Linked DNA regions of Homo sapiens. The protein of the gene in region 2 interacts with the protein of the main gene of each other region in a pairwise test. Each region holds a gene or a part of one and is shown on either strand. Other genes may lie near its edges. The genes, in order: KRTAP22-1, CHRD, HRG and CD36.

Evidence for each region.
Region 1: the proteins of CHRD (region 2) and KRTAP22-1 interact in a two-hybrid assay, tested with the Homo sapiens proteins (one large-scale study listed by BioGRID).
Region 3: the proteins of CHRD (region 2) and HRG interact in a two-hybrid assay, tested with the Homo sapiens proteins (one large-scale study listed by BioGRID and IntAct).
Region 4: the proteins of CHRD (region 2) and CD36 interact in a two-hybrid assay, tested with the Homo sapiens proteins (one large-scale study listed by BioGRID and IntAct).

Annotation. Positions count from the first base shown.
Region 1 is NC_000021.9:30,598,647-30,602,368, forward strand, and holds KRTAP22-1 (keratin-associated protein 22-1), read left to right. Parts: upstream 1-2,440; 5' UTR 2,441-2,474; coding exon 2,475-2,621; 3' UTR 2,622-2,736; downstream 2,737-3,722. Other genes in the region: KRTAP6-2 (keratin-associated protein 6-2), read right to left, coding at 40-228. UniProt on the Homo sapiens protein: In the hair cortex, hair keratin intermediate filaments are embedded in an interfilamentous matrix, consisting of hair keratin-associated proteins (KRTAP), which are essential for the formation of a rigid and resistant hair shaft through their extensive disulfide bond cross-linking with abundant cysteine residues of hair keratins.
Region 2 is NC_000003.12:184,382,382-184,387,413, reverse strand, and holds part of CHRD (chordin isoform 1 precursor), read right to left. Parts: intron 5,026-5,032; coding exon 4,884-5,025; intron 4,781-4,883; coding exon 4,640-4,780; coding exon of another isoform or gene 4,559-4,639; coding exon 4,476-4,558; exon of another isoform or gene 4,399-4,475; coding exon 4,251-4,398; intron 4,103-4,250; coding exon 3,996-4,102; intron 3,892-3,995; coding exon 3,772-3,891; intron 2,878-3,771; coding exon 2,721-2,877; intron 2,397-2,720; coding exon 2,176-2,396; intron 1,369-2,175; coding exon 1,255-1,368; intron 1,138-1,254; coding exon of another isoform or gene 1,111-1,137; exon of another isoform or gene 930-1,110; intron 923-929; coding exon 659-922; intron 570-658; coding exon 476-569; intron 364-475; coding exon 307-363; intron 41-306; coding exon 1-40. UniProt on the Homo sapiens protein: Dorsalizing factor. Key developmental protein that dorsalizes early vertebrate embryonic tissues by binding to ventralizing TGF-beta family bone morphogenetic proteins (BMPs) and sequestering them in latent complexes.
Region 3 is NC_000003.12:186,672,073-186,677,104, reverse strand, and holds part of HRG (histidine-rich glycoprotein precursor), read right to left. Parts: intron 4,319-5,032; coding exon 4,238-4,318; intron 2,017-4,237; coding exon 1,915-2,016; intron 83-1,914; coding exon of another isoform or gene 59-82; coding exon 1-58. UniProt on the Homo sapiens protein: Plasma glycoprotein that binds a number of ligands such as heme, heparin, heparan sulfate, thrombospondin, plasminogen, and divalent metal ions. Binds heparin and heparin/glycosaminoglycans in a zinc-dependent manner.
Region 4 is NC_000007.14:80,644,663-80,649,694, reverse strand, and holds part of CD36 (platelet glycoprotein 4), read right to left. Parts: intron 3,608-5,032; 5' UTR 3,514-3,607; intron 3,447-3,513; exon of another isoform or gene 3,336-3,446; intron 3,250-3,335; exon of another isoform or gene 3,044-3,249; 5' UTR 2,955-3,043; coding exon 2,835-2,954; intron 1-2,834.

The DNA.
Region 1 (3,722 bases), on a different chromosome or scaffold from region 2:
CGATGTCACAGGATAGAGGATGAGTCTCCCACGGTGTCCTCAATAGTAGTAGCCAGAGCCGCATCCATAGCCACAGCCACAGAAGAAGCGGGAGCCGTAGCCATGACCATAGCCACAGCAGGAGCTATAGCCACAGCGCAGGCTTCCATAGCCATAGCCTAGGCCTTCGTATCCACAGCACCCATAGCCATGGTCGCCGTAGTAGTTTCCGTAGTAGCTGCCGCACATCGTGATGGTTGTGGAGGTTGTCCTTGGGTAGGAAGGAGTGTAGGTGACTTCAGTATGGATACTTCCTGTAGAAGTCCTTTTATATGCCTCAGGATGGGAATGATCCAGCAGAGGTAGCATACCACTGGCTAATTTTTTGACTAATATAATTAGTTTGTTTTTTCTCAATTGTAAGATAATGCTGCAGAGGTATTAAGGAGGCTTGTTTTGTTTGGCCTTGCAATTTGGGCTCCCCTTATCTGATTGAGGGCTCTGATGAAAGGAGACCTCACACACTCACACTCATATAATCCTGCCTCAAACTAGACTTTCTATAGCCATCCTTTACATCAAGAAAGACTTTTGTTAGTTACACTCTTATTTGCTCTAGGCCCCAATTAATTGTACTCTTTTGCACAACATTCAGCAAACAATAACTTTGCCCTTTTAGTATTTCTGCTCTCTTTATCCAAATAATACTTTTTTCAGGGATTTAGTGTCTTTTCTATACTAAAGCCATGATGTTGATAATAATTCAACTAATTAAAAATTCTAGAAAACCAGATCTGAGAAAAATTTGTTGTATTTTTCTACTTATACCAGTGAGTCTAATTTTCCTTTATGTTCAACCTCTACGGAAGAACAAGAAAATGTAAGTTATTTTCTTGATTTATAAAAGAATTAATAAGTGACCAAGTCAATGAAATGGAACAATAGTTTTATATTCTCTTTTAACTTCTTATCTTAAAATAATCTCAGGCATAGAGATAGTTGTCAAAATAGTATAGAAAATTTCCATATATCCATCATTCAACATCCCTAATATTAATATCTTTCATAACCATAATCCACTTATCACACCAAAGAAATTAACTGTGTACAGTATTCTTAACTAAACTGCAGACTTTATTTTACCATTTTTCTGTTATTATTAACTTATTTTATTTTAAGTTCTAGGACCATGGTTCATTGTAGCACTATTCACATATTTATTTTAATGTTCTTTTTTTCTGTTCTTGGATCCAATTCACATTGCATTTGGTTTTTATACTTCTTAGTCACCTCCAATTGCTCATGGTTCATTCGTCTTTTCTTGGCTTTTATGACCTTACAATTTTAGAGAGCCAGATATTTTGTGGAATATTCCCCAATTGAATCTGTCTAAGGTTTCCTCATATGTAGATTGAGGTTATACATTTGGGAAGAGATGTAACTCTTGTCTTGTGCCATCTCAGGGAGTCATGATGCCAATAAATCTTTGAGTAATTCTGGAATTGTTTTAAAATTCAGATTTTTAATAGAAGTCCTTTTCTTACTATATACCCAGAATCAACGAAGTCAAAAATCAAAGTCTTTGCCACGGTTTAGAATCATATATAAAATGATAGCTACATGTGAAGTATAAACCAAAGAGAATGATATTGCTCCACAAAAAGTGATGAAACACCTTATCACTCAACATTTTACAAGTGAATGCTGCCACCATGACTTCTCTTACACGCTTATCATCCTTCCTTATCACTTTGGAGCTACACTCTTATTCCCAAGTCTGCATATATGTATTTAGGCTGAAGGATATTATTGGGTGAAAGTAGGATTTTTAAAAAATGGAAGCCATCACGTCCATAACCCCAGGCTTTGGGAGGCCGAGGCGGGCGGATCTTGAGGTCAGGAGATCAAGACCATCCTGGCCAACATGGCGAAACCCCATCTCTACTAAAAATACAAAAATTAGCTGGGCGTGGTGGCACGCACCAGCTATTCATAAGGCTGAGGCAGAGAATCCAGGAGAATCACTTGAAACCAGGAGGTGGAGGTTGCAGTGAGATTGTGCCACTGCACTCCAGCCAGGCAACAGAGCTAGTCTCTGTCTCACAACAACAACAACAACAACAACAACAAGTGGAAGCCATGTGGGTTACTCTTGGTTGCTGGTAATGTAGTTTAAATTTGACATCTGAAATAAACGAGTCATCAAAATAGGAGATGGATCTCTTATTAAAGGTACATTATTTCATTATATTCAACATTCCTGAGAAACAGCAAAGTTGTCTTGGATGTATTGGTTACAAGGAATATTTTAGATGGTTTCAATGCTAATTAGTGTGGAATGTGAATCTAACAGTGCCTGTGATTTGTCCCACATACCATTCATGTGGCATTTAAGGCCCTTATTATAAGCTTAAAACTTTAAACTTAAAACTCTATAAACTTAAAACTCTAGAATCTGATCCTGCTATACAACTGAGCCTACCTTTCTTGAAACCATGAGCTTTGATAACAACTACCATGGTGGCCAGGGCTATGCCAAAGGAGGCCTGGGCTGCAGCTATGGCTGTGGTCTTAGCGGCTATGGCTATGCCTGCTACTGCCCATGGTGTTATGAAAGATCTTGGTTTTCTGGCTGCTTCTGAGAAATTAGAGATTGCTGATCTGTTTAGGCCATTCTCTTATGAGCTATGTTTTCTTCCCGTGTTTTTTTCTGTTCAAAGAGTGACAACTAAAATTTAGCCCACATTGCCAAGTCAGAATTTATTTGATCAATTAGCTGGAATTTCCAACAATTTAATCAAACGAAAAAAGAACCTTTGATGTTGTGTTACTAGTATATGATTAAGTACAAATAATGTTAAGCATTTTCATTTGGGAAAAAGTCTAAATTTATTTTTCTTCAAAGGTAATTTATTTTGCAAACCTACAGCATTTTCCTACCTATATTTATTTATCTAGAGTACCTATATTATTTGTGATTGTGTGTGTGTGTTCAGGAGCACATATGTAAGGTTGCTGACCCATTGGAAACTTACAGTTGATGATGTGGATGTGTTAGGTCTGACCAATAGTACTTTGATAAAATGTATTCTCATGGGCAGAGCCAAGTGGTACTATAATTTACTTTGATCTATCAAAGCCTCATCTTCAGTGTATCCAATGTTTGACTAAAATCATTGGCAAAAATAGTACCTCCCTTCTCATCACTTTATTCTGTTGCACATACATTACATTTCTTGATACTTAGTTGCATTTTTGGCTCTAGATAGCTGTAACTTTTTCTCTAAATCCTATATTATGGCTGTTTCTTTTAACTCTGAAAAAATATACTCTTGAACTCATCCTATGCCTGGTGGCTGCATAGACAGCACTTCCAAGTGTCAGACCCATGTGGCCACAGAGAGTCCATCAAATTTAAGTATGTTTCTGTGAACCTTTTATCAAGGTCAATATCTGCTACCTCAGGTAATACTTTCTTCTTGAAGACACAAGTCTGACCCAAAATACAAGCTGAAAAATATAGACTTCAGTTTGCCAGCCGTGCTCAAGTTAAGCAAAGCTGTTCTTTATTCACTCTACTTATTATTTATCAGTCGACATTGATAAAAATATAAAGCAAAAATATCTTCTAATCTGTTAGTGACTAATGTTAACATTTGGAGTTTCTACAACTAATAAAATATTCATACAAAATTACTTTGTTAATGGCTATTATAGTATGAAGTTGGCTAAACTCTTAACTA
Region 2 (5,032 bases):
CCCGCTGCCCGCCAGCTCCGGTCACCATCAAAATAGCAGCCTGGTGGGGAACAGGGCCCAGCAGCCATTAGTATGAGCTCATCAGCTGGGCCCACAACCAAGGCTTGAGCCTCAGGCCACCCCCACACGAGCCTAAGCCAAGGGCCCACCTGGGGGCCAGTAACACTAATGAGTCCTGTCAGGCATCACTTGGAATCTGTGCCCCTCAGGCCACCCCCTATATACTCTCCCCTTCTTGTCCCCCTCCTGGTTCAACCTAATGGCTCCTCTGGGGCCTCCCACCCTGCACGCACCCTTCCAGCTCACCCTCTCCTGGGTCCCGGCTCCTTGGCAGCCCTGGCAAGTCTCTGACATCTTGTTTCTCTGTGGAGCCAAAGAAATGGTGAAAGCAGAGAGTGACCACCCTCATTCCCTCCCCAAAGGACCTGTCCGCACTGGGCCAACTCCTCCCTCCACTCCCCTGCGGGGAACTCACCAGGGCAAACAGGGCAGCACTGGTCGGGAGCCTGCACCGGGTGTGGGCAGCTGGGCGGTGGGCACACCACCGGGTCACAGATCACCGTTCGTCTCTGCAGAGAGGAGCAGAGGCATTGACGGGAGTGTCCAGGCCCCTTGCTCCAGATCCCAGGACCCAGTGTGCCCTTCCAGGACCTCCTACCTGGCAGGTGCAGAGTGAGCAGAGCGGGTCGTAGTTGGGCGCCCAGCGAGCCCCGTGGGGGCGCTGCTGCCCCTCGAAGAAGCATGTGTTGGGGTCTCGGGGCCGCCCAGGACCACCAGGTTTGGCGGGCGCTAGGGCCGGGAGACCAGGCACCACAGGCGGCGCAGCAGAGGCTGTATCCGGAGCCCCCAGCGCCCGCACCCCCTCGGCCCCGGCCGCCTCCAGGCGCAGTCCGCCAACCTCACATTGGTTGGCTATGTGCACCTGGGAGGAGAGGCCAACTGAGGCAGCGCTGGGGCTCCCCCTCGCGTCTTTACCAGCGGCAGCTGGCCAGCCAGCAGGAGACACCTCGGCCCCCTGAGCGCTGCAGTGGCCCAGGAGGATGCCATTCGCTCCACAATCATCTCAGCTGCCAGGGATAGGGTGCCGGGCTGCCAGCCTCCTCATGTAGCTCATCCTCCCCACCAGCCGGGGGGGCGCTGTGATACGACCACCCCCAGGACTCAGAGACAGCAAGTGACTAGTGCAATGGCACACAGTGCCCCTCCAACTCTGCACCCTCCCCACTGCCCCCACTGCCCACACTCGCCACCTACCTGCCCTCGGAGCTCCCCTCTGGGGCTACCCTTGGTGGTGATCATCAGGGAGGCCATGCCTTTTGCCAGGTGCCGCAGCAGTTCCGGCTCCAGGTCCTTCACCACACCCTGGGCCTGCACATAGACAGGACAATGGATAGGAATAAGGCACTTTAGGGCTGAGCCTACTGTCCCCAGTTCACAGATGAAGAAACTGAGAGCCAGGGAGGTTAAATAAAGTCTTCATGGTAGCAAAGCCCATTGGCAATAGTGTGGAGCTTGGAAGCCAGGTCTCTCTGACCAAGTCCATGAGAACTCACCCCACTTGAAGGGCTTAGTCCATCCCACCTACCCCCCTGAGGTCCAGGATATTACATACTATCCAAGACACCCCACCAAAAAAAGACTTAGAAAGGAGAATGAATAATAAAAAGCCAGTCAGAGTCATGCCCAGGTCTATCTGACTCCCAAGCCCATGCCAGCTCTTTTTTTTTTTTTTTTTTTTTTTTTTTTTGAGACGGATTTTTGCTCTTTCTGTCCAGGCTGGAGTGCAATGGCGCCATCTCGGCTCACTGCAACCTCCACCTCCCAGGTTCAAGCGATTCTCCTGCCTCAGCCTCTGGAGTAGCTGGGATTATAGGCATGTGCCACCACGCCCAGCTAATTTTGTATTTTTAGTAGAGATGGGGTTTCTCCATGTTGGTCAGGCTAGTCTTGAGCTTCCTACCTCAGGTGATCCACCCACCTGGCCTCCCAAAGTGCTGGGATTACAGGCTTGAGCCACTGCACCCAGCCTACAAATCACTGTTTAATTTATTTTATTTATGCCAGCTCTTCTATACCAGGCTGCCTGCTCTCTGCTTTCCCCAACACAGGCCCACACAGCCCTTCAAGCTAAAAAACAGAAATGTTCCAAGCTGCCGCCTACCATCACATCCTTACCTCTGAGCCATAGAATCCCTTCAGCAGCCGCCGAGGCCCTGGCGTTCCAGGAGGCCCAAGGAGGTGGGCAGTGACAGTGCCTTGTTCTGAGCCACCAAGCCCAGCCAGCAGCACTTCATAGTGCAGGTGACAGTGGGTATCCAAGGAAAGCCAGGCGTGCCCTGCTGCTTGGCTCTTCACAGGGGGTAGCACCAGGGCTCCTGCTAGGGGCACGGGCAGCGCTGGGTCCAGACAGAGGAGAGATGACAGGTGAGAAGGTGGCCTAGGGCAAGCCCTCAAACCCAGCATTCCCAGCTCCCCAGCACACATTCCACGAGCTGGAAGACACTGTCCATAGGTCCAGGGCCTGGAGAGCAGCAAGTTTTAGACCCTTGAACCTCAGCAACAGGAAGAGTCCGCCAGCAGGGCCACCCTATATGTCCCCACCTTCAGATGGCAACCGGAGCTTAGGCACAAAGAAAGACACACCAGGCTCCGGCTGTCTGCCACCATCCCTCAAATGTTCTAGGAAACCAAAGGGCAGACAGACCCCTAAGGACACTCACTGTCATGGCGGGCGCTATGCCCACAGTAGGGCAGGGCAGCCACGTGCCCCCGAAGCTCTCCGTCTGGGAAGTCCTTGGTGCCCACGTTCAGGAAGAGCTCATTCTGCAGCAGCATATGAGCCCCTCGGGCACCCAGCCCAGGGCAGATACCCACGGCCTGGGGGCAGGGGAGGATAGGCCTTCTCAGCTCTCACACGAGTCCAAGGTTCTGAAGTCTTGGACCATTTTGTGCCCCCACTCCACCCACACACACTTCCACACACCAGAAACACAGGATAAGGACCTGGCAGGCCCAGTTTCAAGGCCCTCCCCTGCTGCTTCCTAGCTATGTAACAACCTTCAAGAGTAACTTAACTTCTCCAAGTCTTCACTTCCTCATCTCTCAAATGGATACTGTGAAAGCCAAAAACTATGTAAGGCCACCAATGCAGCACCTAGCACATGGAAAGGCCCTATAAGTAGCAACCATTGCCATTACATTTACTAATATGTGGCCTGTGGCACTGTTCTCCAGGTCCAATGCTCCCATTTGACTGTGAGCTTGCTAAGCACAGGGGCCACATATGATTTGCTTTGTACTCTAGTCCCTAGTCTGGGGCTCACTAAAAATGTCAAATCATGCCGGGCACGGTGGCTCTCGCCTGTAATCCCAGCACTTTGGGAGGCCGAAGTGGGCGGACCATGAGGTCAAGAGATCAAGACCATCCTGGCCAACACGGTGAAACCCCGTCTCTACTAAAAATACAGAAATTAGCTGGGTGTGGTGGTGCACACCTGTGGTCCCAGCTACTTGGGAGGCTGAGGCAGGAGAATCGCTTGAACCCAGGAGGCAGAGGTTGCAGTAAGCCAAGATCACACCACTGCACTCCAGCCTGGTGACAGAGCCAGACTCCATCTCAAAAAAAAAAAAAAAAAAAAGTCAAATGAATAAATGAATGAGTGGGAGAACCCATGAGTGAGTGGATGATAATGAACATCCCTGCTCATCCAACCTGGCTTCCCACAGCCCATGCATTGGGCCCTGGGGTCCAGCTCCACCTGGAGCCCTCACCGTGTGTCCTCCTGGCTGGAGTCCAGCCATGTGGCACAGGACAGTGCGCTGATCCCTCCGCTGAGGCTTGGTCTCCAGTGTCATGGCCACCACCTCACTGCTTGTCCCTACCACTTGCACCTGATGGGCAGGGATGGAGGAGGGCAAAGTGGAGAGGCAGTAAAGGCCTGGGGCCTGCTGCCCACGCCACCCCTCCCCCACCTTCTGCAGCCCCTGGCTCTTACCTGATAGATCAGGGAGCCATTTCCTAGCAGCGTGAGGCTGGCTGAGCCGGCAGCACCCGTCTGGACTGGGATCAGGGCATCAGCCCCACAAAGGACACTTTGCAGGACTACGGAGGGGCAAGACAGGTGAGGCTAGGTTTACCCCATGGCCGCTTACACCCCCAGTCCACAGGATCTCTCCCACACCCACCCTGGCACTTGTCTGTGTCTCTCAGTTGTGCATGCCCGGCGCACCAGGCCCCCCCCCCGCCTCACCGTCGCAGCTCTTCCTGGCAGCAATGTGTCCACTGATGCGCAGCCCTGGCCTGCCTGCCCACTCCAGGGCCATCTGCAGCTCCCCCAGCACCAGCCAGTCCATCTCCTGGACTGTCAGGTTGGGCAGCACCTCAGCAAAGCCTGGTTCCTGGGGACAGAGCAGGGTGTGATGGGCAATAGCAAGAGGCCAAGACAGGTGGCAGCGAGAGCCAGATCCCCACTCACCTGGGCTGAGACATTGGCCTGAAGTTCTCGCAGTAGCTGCCCCTGGTGTAGAATCTGGAGCCTCAAGGGAACCTGGGTTAGTCCTGCAAGGCCGCACATGTGGGCCTTTCTGAGACAGGTGCTCTCCCTAACCTTCTCACGTGTTTTGCCCCCATCCCACTTACCCCCACTCCTGGGTTCCAGCAGCCCTCGGAAGAGCAGCAAAAAATGCAAGGAGTCCTCTGTGTCACTGAGAGTGAGCAGGGTGATGCCCCCTACGCCCTGCTGTGGGGGGCCTTCTAGAGTCAGGATGGCACTGAAGGTCTCTGGGGAAGGGACGATGATGAGAGCCCGTCAGAAACCCTCCCCCCCTTTCCTGGGTGATAGAGAAGACTCAGAACTTCACGCCCGGGGCTCTTTGCTCCCTACCTGCAGCCAGGGCCCGGTGCCGGATGAGAGGCCCCCAGACCTCCCCTGAAGGGTGAGTGAGTGTCACAAGTGCCACATGCAGCTGTTCTGCCCTAAGGAGCCGCAGAGACAACCGAGGCACTGCCCGCCACACCCCACAGACCTGGAGC
Region 3 (5,032 bases), 2.3 Mb from region 2:
CACCCCAGTGGAAGGGATGTCCCAAATGAGGCGGTACACCATTGATGTTCTCATGTTCCTGGAAAAGGTCACAGAAAAGTGCCTATCATCATGTAACATAAAAGAAGATGTTAGATACTTGACTTGATTTACACCAATGGCTCCCAGATCATAGATTCCACAAATCAATTTAAAAAGTATTACGAAAAAAGATTCTCAAATTGTTATCTAGCCCAGTTGATATTTAAAATATTAACAATAACTATCATTTACCACCATCATTGTTTCACAAAAGAAACTATTTTTTTTTTCTGAGACTGAGTCTCGCTCTGTCACCCAGTCTGGAGTGCAGTGGTGCGATCTCTGCTCATTGCAACATCCACCTCTCAGGTTCAAGCAATTCTCCTGCCTCAGCCTCCCAAGTAGCTGGGACTACACGCCCAAGCCACCATGCCCACCTAATTTTTTTTTTTCTTTTTTTGAGACATAGTCTTACTCTGTTGCCCAGACTCCTAATTTTTGTATTTTTAGTAGAGACAGGTTTCACCATGTTGAACTCCTTGTTTCAAGTAATCCACCCATCTCAGCTTCCCAAAGTGCTGGGATTACAGGCATGAGCCACCATGCCCAGCCTGGAATGAAATTTTGATTTAAAAAAAAAAGAAAGAGCCAGAAACACAATATCAGAGTAAAGGATTGTCCTTTAGATGGATAAATGTTAGATATAAAAAACTTCATTATCCTTATTTTTTTTTCATTTTTACTACACAGAGTGGTGAAACAATATTATGACCTGGCACCCATCTGTAGACCAACACTGGAAAACTAGTGCCTTATAACTGATATTCTTAACTGAGGCTTGATGGTATCAACATCCCTTACTCCTAAAGGCTGAACACTTGACCTCTTCTCTCTCTTCCTTGTTCAGAGTTTAATTTTTTAAAAAATAGCTACAGAGGCCGGGCACGGTGGCTCATGTCTGTAATCCCAGAACTTTGGGAGGCTGAGGCAGGTGGATCACCTAAGGTCAGGAGTTTGAGACCAACCTGACCAACATGGAGAAACCCCTTCTCTACTAAAAATGCAAAATTAGCCAGGTATGGTGGCGCATGCCTGTAATCCTAGCTACTCAGGAGGCTGAGGCAGGAGAATCGCTTGAACCCAGGAGGCAGAGGTTGTGGTGAGCCGAGATGGCACCATTGTATTCCAGCCTGGGCAATAAGAGCAAAACTCCTTCTCAAAAAAAAAAAAAAAAAAAAAGACAGAGCCATGTTCATGGTGACAATCCTGCCCTTTGTTCCTTTTTCTTTTTTTTAACTTGGGATTGGATGTTTGGATTATTTTAAGTTTTGTTTCTGATATGAAAAATTTCGTGAAGCAAATCTTTGTACTCATGTAAAAAATAGACCAAAGATTTCTGAGACAGATGCAAAATATGGTTTTGCATCTTATTTTATATACATTTACATAATAAATTTGAGGCTGATATATTCCTCTTAGATTCTATGCCCAATAATATAAGCTTAGGAATGACTAAGTCTCAGCACTAGAGTCCCGACTACAAAGAGCATTTTCAAATTCCTTCAAGTTTGGTTGAATTGGACATGATTTTAATTTTCTGCCAATTGTTACCCCTCTTCAATTCTTGGAAAAGTTTTCATACTTTTTGTGTAATCTGGCAATTGCACTCCTTTCCCCAGTTGTGGGATACTCTCTGTATCTTTTTTCTTGCATGTCTGTCTGTCTCTCTCTTTCTCTCTCTCCCTGTCTCCCTCTCTCTGTCTCTGTCTCTGTCTCTCTCTCTCTCTCTCTCTCTCACACACACACACACACACACACACCCACTCATAGAGCTTTAGGAAGCAACAACACTATTTGTGTACGTATGTCACTTAATCTGGCACTGCCATGACAAAGTCTGCTTAGACAACCCACCTGAGGGTCGAAGACTTCACAGTTTATGACAAGGTTTTTCGGGCTTTCCAAGTCCAAGGCTTCTACATCATAGAACAAATCTGCTCTGCAGAATCCAAAGACCTACAAAGGAATGAGGAGCTGTTAGTGTGTGTGTCCAGGTGGTGTGAAGATGACCAGCCAGAGTTAGCTTCCAGACATTCAGAAAAGGAAGAAGTGCTTTAGAAAAATCAGGGTAATATGATCAGATATTCCCACCAGTCGTTCAGCAATCTTTCCTTGTTAACACTTTGGGGAAAGTGCAGGTGGTGAAGGGTATCACTAAAGTTGCTGTGGTTTTTTTCATGAGCAGGCACCAGCACTGGGCTTCCCCATGGGTGATGGAAATGATGAGGAAAACCACATCATTGCTGCCTTGCCTTTAGGCCAACCCTTCTGCACTGGAGACCTCAGTTGCCTGTGCCTAGGACAATGAGGAATGGTGTCAAAGAGGGATTTTTACAACTTCAGCTGGTCCCTTGGAGGAAAGTGTTGGACAGGAGGGCATCTGTATAGCATAAAGATGGGTTTTCATGGACATTGTCAAGGCAAGTGTCTGCTGACTCCACCCAAGTGCCAGGGCTACAACTGGCTGCCACTCCTGTGCTCCAGATGCTCCTAAACCCACCTGTGAAAGATCGACTAGGACAAGAGGACGGCTGTCTGCTAGAAGAAATTGCTAAGCATTGAGGTTCTGAGTACAGTTTGGGAATCAGAGAGACCTATGTTAATCCTGGCTTCTCCATTTCCTAGTTGTCTGAGTTTGGGAAAGTTACAAAAGATTTCTGAAAGTCAGCCATTGTAAAATGGGGATAATACTATGTACTCACAGGTTGTGGGAGGGATTAATTAAACAAGAGGATGCTGTAAAACACTTACCCCTGAGCCTCCTCTTCAGCTCTGGTGCTTCAACTCTGGGTTTACATTATCCACACCAAGATCATGAAGGGTTTGTTGGCCATAGGAGTAGGGGAGGGAGGTGTCTTTTCTGGTGGGCGCTAAGAAGGTTTCTAGACCTGGTTCAGTGTGGACATTAGAAGAGCTAACAAAGGTACTAATGGATGGTTTCTCCCTTTTGACCAGGGAGAATGTGTTGTTAAACCTCAGAAAAATCCTGGACTTGGCATCATAATTAAAATTCCATTTCCTAACACTCTCTAGCTAAGTGCCTTTAGGTAAGTGGTTTTAATTTCAGGTCCCCTTGTCACAGGAAATGTAGGCAGATACTTGCTTTTCCTTGTCAGCAGGATTTTCATGAGGCTCTCCTGGCAATAACAGATGTGGAGGTGTTTCTTTAACTGTAGGTCACCATGCAAATGCCAGGTGGTATTAATAATGTCTTCTGGCAGGTACATGGGAATCTATTTGTAAATGATTAGAGGAAAAATCCCACTGGACTTTGTATGAGAATAACTAAGTTTTAATCTCAGCTTGGTTGTGAACATCGGCAAGACCTTTCCTTTGCTGATTTTCAGTTACCTCCTCATTTGTCAAGTGGGATTCCTGTGAGTGTGATGATGTGGAATTAATAAAACCACTTGGCGTAGGGTCTTAGTACGAACTGCTATAGTTCTAACTAAGCCTTTAATCCTAATCAGTTAGAAACTTAGTTTTAAGTTTAGGTATATATCATGTATATTATAAAATCATGTTCTTATGGTTCGCTTATGTTCTCTGTGCCTCAGTTCCCCTATCTGCTAATTTGGGATTAAAAATGGTATCTATCTCATATGGTAGTGTGAGGGTTAATAAGTTATCATAGGCTGGGCATGGTGGCTTGCGCCTGTAACCCCAGCACTTTGATTTGTAATCCCAGCCGAAGTGGGTGGACACCTGAGATAAGGAGTTTGAGACCAACCTGATCAACATGGTGAAACCCCATCTCTACTAAAAATACAAAAATTAGCTGGGCGTGGTGGTGCATGCCTGTAATCCCAGTTACTCCGGAGGCTGAGGCAGGAGAATCGCCTGAACCCGGGAGGCGGAGGTTGCAGTGAGCCGACACTGTGCCATTGCACTCCAACCTGGGCAACAAGAGCGAAACTCCATCTCAAAAACAAAACAAAACAATAAGTTATCTGATGTGTAAATCACTTAGAAGAGTGCCTGGCAGGTACTAAGTGCTTCCCAGATGATACTTTGTATTTCACAGACATTTCTTCCTCCTTCTCCTCCTCCTCATTTTCTCCTTCTCATTCCTCTTCTCCTTCTTCTCCTTCCTCTCCTTCTCCTTCTCCTTCTCCTTCTTCTCTTTCTTTTTTCTCTGTGACTCTAGTCAACGATCACAGACATTTCTTATACTCACATTGGGGTGTCTGGGGAAATGGTGTCTGGGGCAGTTCCGCACAGAGAAGTCCACGAAGTAACCAGTTCCTTCCCCTCCTCTCTAGAACAGATGGGATCAAAATAGTTTCAAGAACAGACAAAGAAAAAGGAAAAAAAAGCAGTAGATAACTACCATTCAATATTTTTTAAGGCAGTATGAGAATTCAAAATCACCAGTATGTGTCATTTTTTAAAATGGTTTCTGCCTTTTAAAAATGTATCACCTAAGTGATAAGGTGAATACCAGTTCACTGAAAAGGTTCAAATAATAAATATATGATAAAGTAGAGTGTGAAAAATCACCTCTCCTGCACTCCAACTTCTTCCCAGAGTTTTCATTCTCATTTATTTGATGTGTTTCCTCTTCGAGTGTTTTCCTAGATGTGTTACACATACACAGGGAGATCTAAGTGTTTCATATAAATGGGTCCATAGTCTAAGTACTGTTCTATAACCTGCATTTTCCTATACCAATATGTTTTCAAACTCCAGTGCGCATGGGTCCAAACATTCTTTGAGCAACTGCATGGTACTCATTTCCTTACTTGTATGCAACACAATCTATTTAACGCTGCATTTTCTGAATGCATAGCAAATGTCAACCAGTTGCTCTACAAGACAGCTCTGGGTGAAAGTACTTGGGTCCTTGTAGAGAGAGCAGGGAACCATCTAACTATAGGCACATTACTGGGTGTGGTGAGGTAATTTCTCTGAACTTCAGTTTTCCATCATAGTACAAGAATGTTAGTATTGGATGATTTGCAATGACACAACC
Region 4 (5,032 bases), on a different chromosome or scaffold from region 2:
TCTATTTGAACTCTGACCTTTGAAACACAGACTGATGTTCATAAAACATCACTTATAAAACCTCTGTTTTACTTTGTAAGGTATATACATACCTTCTATCAATAACTCACTGGACATCTTGAGTTTGATGCTTTTACTCCTCTAATTTAATCTGTCTCTCCAAGCTTCCATTTCATCCTATTATCTATCAGTTTTTTTTTTCTATATACTCAACCATGCCAGACCAGTGTGCCTTTTGTTATATAATGTGCAGATTATGCAAATATCTTTCTAAAAGGGAATCTTATATTCTCCTTGAAAGTGGTCATATCCTACAGTTTTTTGTTTGTTTGTTTTCCTATCTCTGGTATCCTCACTTTGCAACCTTTCTGCTGTAGAGTAGTATACAAGGCCAGGTTTTTCATCTAGGCTCTTCCTACAGATTGCTTACATTTGGAGAATGACTTCTTTCCCTATTGGCTAGGTGAGTTGGCAAGTTGATTTAAGGACTTGCGCCTGTAAGATGAGTAAAATAACAGCAACTTCTCACAGATATTTTTGAAGATTAAGTGAACTAGTATATAGGAAACTCTTAGTAAGAATTAAATGTTAGCCATCTAATCTCTAAATTCAGGTTTTATCATATCTTACACTTGCTGAAAAACATACCGACGACTATTGTGTATTGTATCATCAATTAAGTATTTTTCTGCCTGATGTTCTAAGCTTGCTTCCTAACTCTAACCCCATGTTAACTTCTAATCTTTTCTGCTGTTAATCCAGTATTATGGGCACATTCTCTACCTTCTTCCTTCCATCTTCACTGCATTTGGTAGCATTTTCACAGGGTTTTTCATACTATCAATCAGTCCTTTAATATGGTTACTGCAGTTATTTGAGACTTTCAAAATTCTACACTTCTTTAAAATCTGAATCAAGTCCTACCTTTTTCCTGAAGTTTCTTGAATACTCTGAGAGATTTCTCTTTCAAAGTATTACAGCATTTACTTTTCCAATTCAATTCTAGAGTCTCATAGGTCTCGGTATTTTTTATTATAATATATCTTCCCCTGGTTATAGCTTACAATAGATGAGATTATATTATTCTCTTAGTCATTATACAAAAGCACATTTTGATGTCAGAAAACTTACTTTCTCATGGTTAACTATTATAAGCATAAAGATAAATATTAAAGAATTAAAATAAATGCTAGCACCTCACATGCTATTCAAAAGAATCTACATGTACCAGTTTTGTTGCATGACAAAGAAAAAAATTAAATCATCAATACTCAGTTATTGACCAATAATTATGTGTCAGCAAAAAAAAGTAGTCTAAATCGCTGTGCATTGGAAGATTATTGTGATTTTTGAATTTGGAAAACTTTTCCAAATGATGTTGTAGTCTGTACGTTAACACAGACACTGATCTTGTACTTTCTCTGCATAAGATCTGGGTGAGAACATAGTTTATGAGTAGGAAGGATGTCAGATCAATGGCCACTCCATCCCACTATTAGATAAGCCCCACACCTCACTATTACCTGTCTGTTTCCATTGGCCTGTATTAAAAATACTATCAAGAAAACTAAGAATTCCAAGGCAGGGGATACTAATTTACATATGTTTTTTCAGTTAAATGCATGAGGCTGAAGTTCTGCAATATGTTAGCAATAAACACAATACAGTCAGCCCTCTGTATTCATGGGTTCCACATCTGCAGATTCAACCAACTGTGGATCAAAAATATTAAAAATACTAACAATATAGCAATAAAAATTTAATAAAAATTCAATTCCTCCTGTTCTCCATCGTGCACTATGCTTACTAACCCTTTGTCTAGGTCATTGCCATCCTAACCAGGTAGAGAGTTGAAGGCAGAACTCGTTTTATTTGGCCAGTATTATGTTTAATAAAATGAACATTTATGCCTTCAGGCAGTAAACACACAGTCTAGTTCACAGCAGTTCCTGTTCTTCATTTTATCTTGTTCTTGGCACCTTAAATTTTGTTTAACCCCTGTATCCAAACTCCTGCAGCCATTTGAATTTGCCATCCCTGATTTAGAACTTCAGCAGAACTGCTTCCCTTTATTCTCTTCTTCCCCCTATCAATCAACGTTTCTGATGAGTGAGTGTGTAGCTAATTCGAATAAGCTAGGGTGGGAGATGAATTCTAGGTTGTTGTGCAAAGCCCATCTATTCAATCATTCTGTTTTTTCACACTACAGTCAATTTGTTTTATACTAAGACATGTTCTGCATATTTCTGAAAGTATTTTCTAAGATTCCAATATGAAGCTTCACAAATAGAAAATATTTATGAGATGAGATTATTACACATATATAAAAATAGTGGATTACTAAACAGTGTATTACCAAACAAGTTTACCTACAATTTAATAAGGATTTATGTTTCAATATTAAACACATTACACACACACACACACACACACACAGTTTTACTTTTCTCAGTATTAACTAAAGTGCAACTTCTTTTATAAATGTGCTTTTACAAAATATACTCACTTATTTCCTACTCAAAAGCATGCCAACATGCTCTTTGGACATAACTTAAAACAATTATTTCTACTAACATGCATACCTGTAGACAGCTTTTAATAGAATTTGGTATTTATATTTAAGACAGCAATGGAGTCATGTTAAATATACATTATACTTATAACATTTCACATAAAGTCGCATCATATAGAGTTGCAGTGGTTCATAATTACCTTTATGTCAAAGATACAAAATTAGCAGTTACCATGAAATATAAAGCAGGTAAATACAAAGCAAAAAAAGAGAAGTTAGAATCAATCAAAATGAGAAGGCATATTCTTTGGACTACTTGTACCTTTTTAATTGTCTTCTGGATAAGCAGGTCTCCAACTGGCATTAGAATACCTCCAAACACAGCCAGGACAGCACCAATGACAGCCCCAGCGATGAGCCCACAGTTCCGGTCACAGCCCATTTTTCTTGTTCAGGAGGTGAATTAGTGTTAAGCACCTGTTTCTTGCAAACTCCTGGATATGATTAAAGTGGTTTCTACAAGCTCTGGTTCTATCATTAGAAAGAGATCATAAAACAGAAGCTTAAATATCAGTACAAAAAGATCAAAGTACAAAGAAAACACCCACTGAAACGTATCATTTTGCCCGTTCTAAATAAACAAATGCTTTTCTTTTTGTTTCACCAAAGTGGCTTCCTCGGTCCGTCTCCCTTTTCTTGCTTCTAATGCCTACCAGTGGCAGAACTAATAATGTCATATCTGAATTTCTTCATATTCCTCCTTTTTAATTTTCTTTCTACACATGATTAACATATTGAAATCTTATCTAAGGAGAACTCTCACCCTCATCTCTCTTCCCTTGTCTCAGCAACTTAGTTGCATCCTCACTATCTGGTTTCTCCACCCAACACAACCTTCCACACCCCTTCTGGAGCTCTCCTGCGAACAGAATGTGGGTTGACTGATGTGTTTTCCATTAAATGATAAGCAAGTATGGTAACAGATGTTTTATTTACGATACCTTATTCACAAATCAACAGCAAGACATGAATTTTACAGGAAATGAACTGATGAGTCACAGAAAGAATCAATTCGTCTAATCATTGGAAAGCTATCTGTGAAAATAAGAAAAGCATGGGTAAATAGAAAAAAATTCTCAGAAATTTTATACTGGGACACTCTCTAATATCACCATACTTAAAATAACTGTTAAAAGAAAGTCTAATTTTCATGAATACTGAGTTCAGGCCTGAATGGCTTGTCCTAAAAACTGTTTAAAACATGGAATTTTTAAAATAAGAGTATCTTACTTTCAGTTTTATTGATGACTTTGGATAGACTACAGGTATAAAGAATTTGAAGCAAATATAAAATGTAGAGGATGTCTTGTTTCAACCATGGCATTGCTCTCTTACTGAAGAATTTTTTCCCTACACATTCAACTACAATATAGTTTGTCATTTGCAGTTGATTCATGCTAATTCTGTTAAAATTAGGTAGTTTGTGTTAGTATATATTTGTCAATCTAATGTTTGGTGTCTTCATAAAGTATGTGATTATTATTATTTTTTGAGACGGAGTCTTTCTCTGTCACCCAGGCTGGAGTGCAGTGGCACGATCTCGGCTCACTGCAACCTCTGCCTCCTGGGTTCAAGCAATTCTCCTGACTCAGCCTCCTGTGTAGCTGGGATTACAGGTGCACGCCACCATGCCTGGTTAATTTTTGTATTTTCAGTAGAGATGGGGTTTCACCATGTTGGTCAGGCTGGTCTCGAACTCCTGACCTCGTGATCCACCCACCTCAGCCTCCCAAAGTGCTGGGATGACAGGCGTGAGCCACCATGCCCAGCCATAGTATGTGATTATTATATAAAGATTGGGAGAGCCGGGCGTGGTGGCTCACACCTGTCATCCTAGCACTTTGGAAGGCTGAGGCGGGTGGATCACCTGAGGTTGGGAGTTTGAGACCAGCCCGACCAACACAGAGAAACCCCATCTCTACTAAACATACAAAGTTAGCCGGGCTTGGTGGCACATGCTTGTAATCCCAGCTACTCCGGAGGCTGAGGCAGGAGAATCGCTTGAACCCAGGAGGCGGAGGTTGCGGTGAGCCGAGATCATGCCATTGCACTCCAGCCTGGGCAACAAGAGTGAAACTCCATCTCAAAAAAAAAAAAAAAGATTGGAAGAAAGAATACAGTTTGTGAAATGAGTGGATCCTACTGTAATAATCAGAGTTAATTCTAACTAGTATTTGAAAACACATTTATTTGAACTTCTTTGTTGTTGCAATGACATTTTGTCAATAATGGGGTTGGCGTGTCATTTATAGTCAGAATGCGCTTTATAGTTTATAAACAATTATTCTCTACTTTGAAATGCTCATGGCCAAAGAAAACATATGTGCCAACGGAATGAAGGCTACAGTCAAAAAAGGGCACATAGAATATTGTTGTTAATGTTGTAAGTGTATTAATAATTGTGGTTTGTTATAATTTCAGGTTTTCCCTCCACAGCTGTCTTGCAACAGAGGTACCACT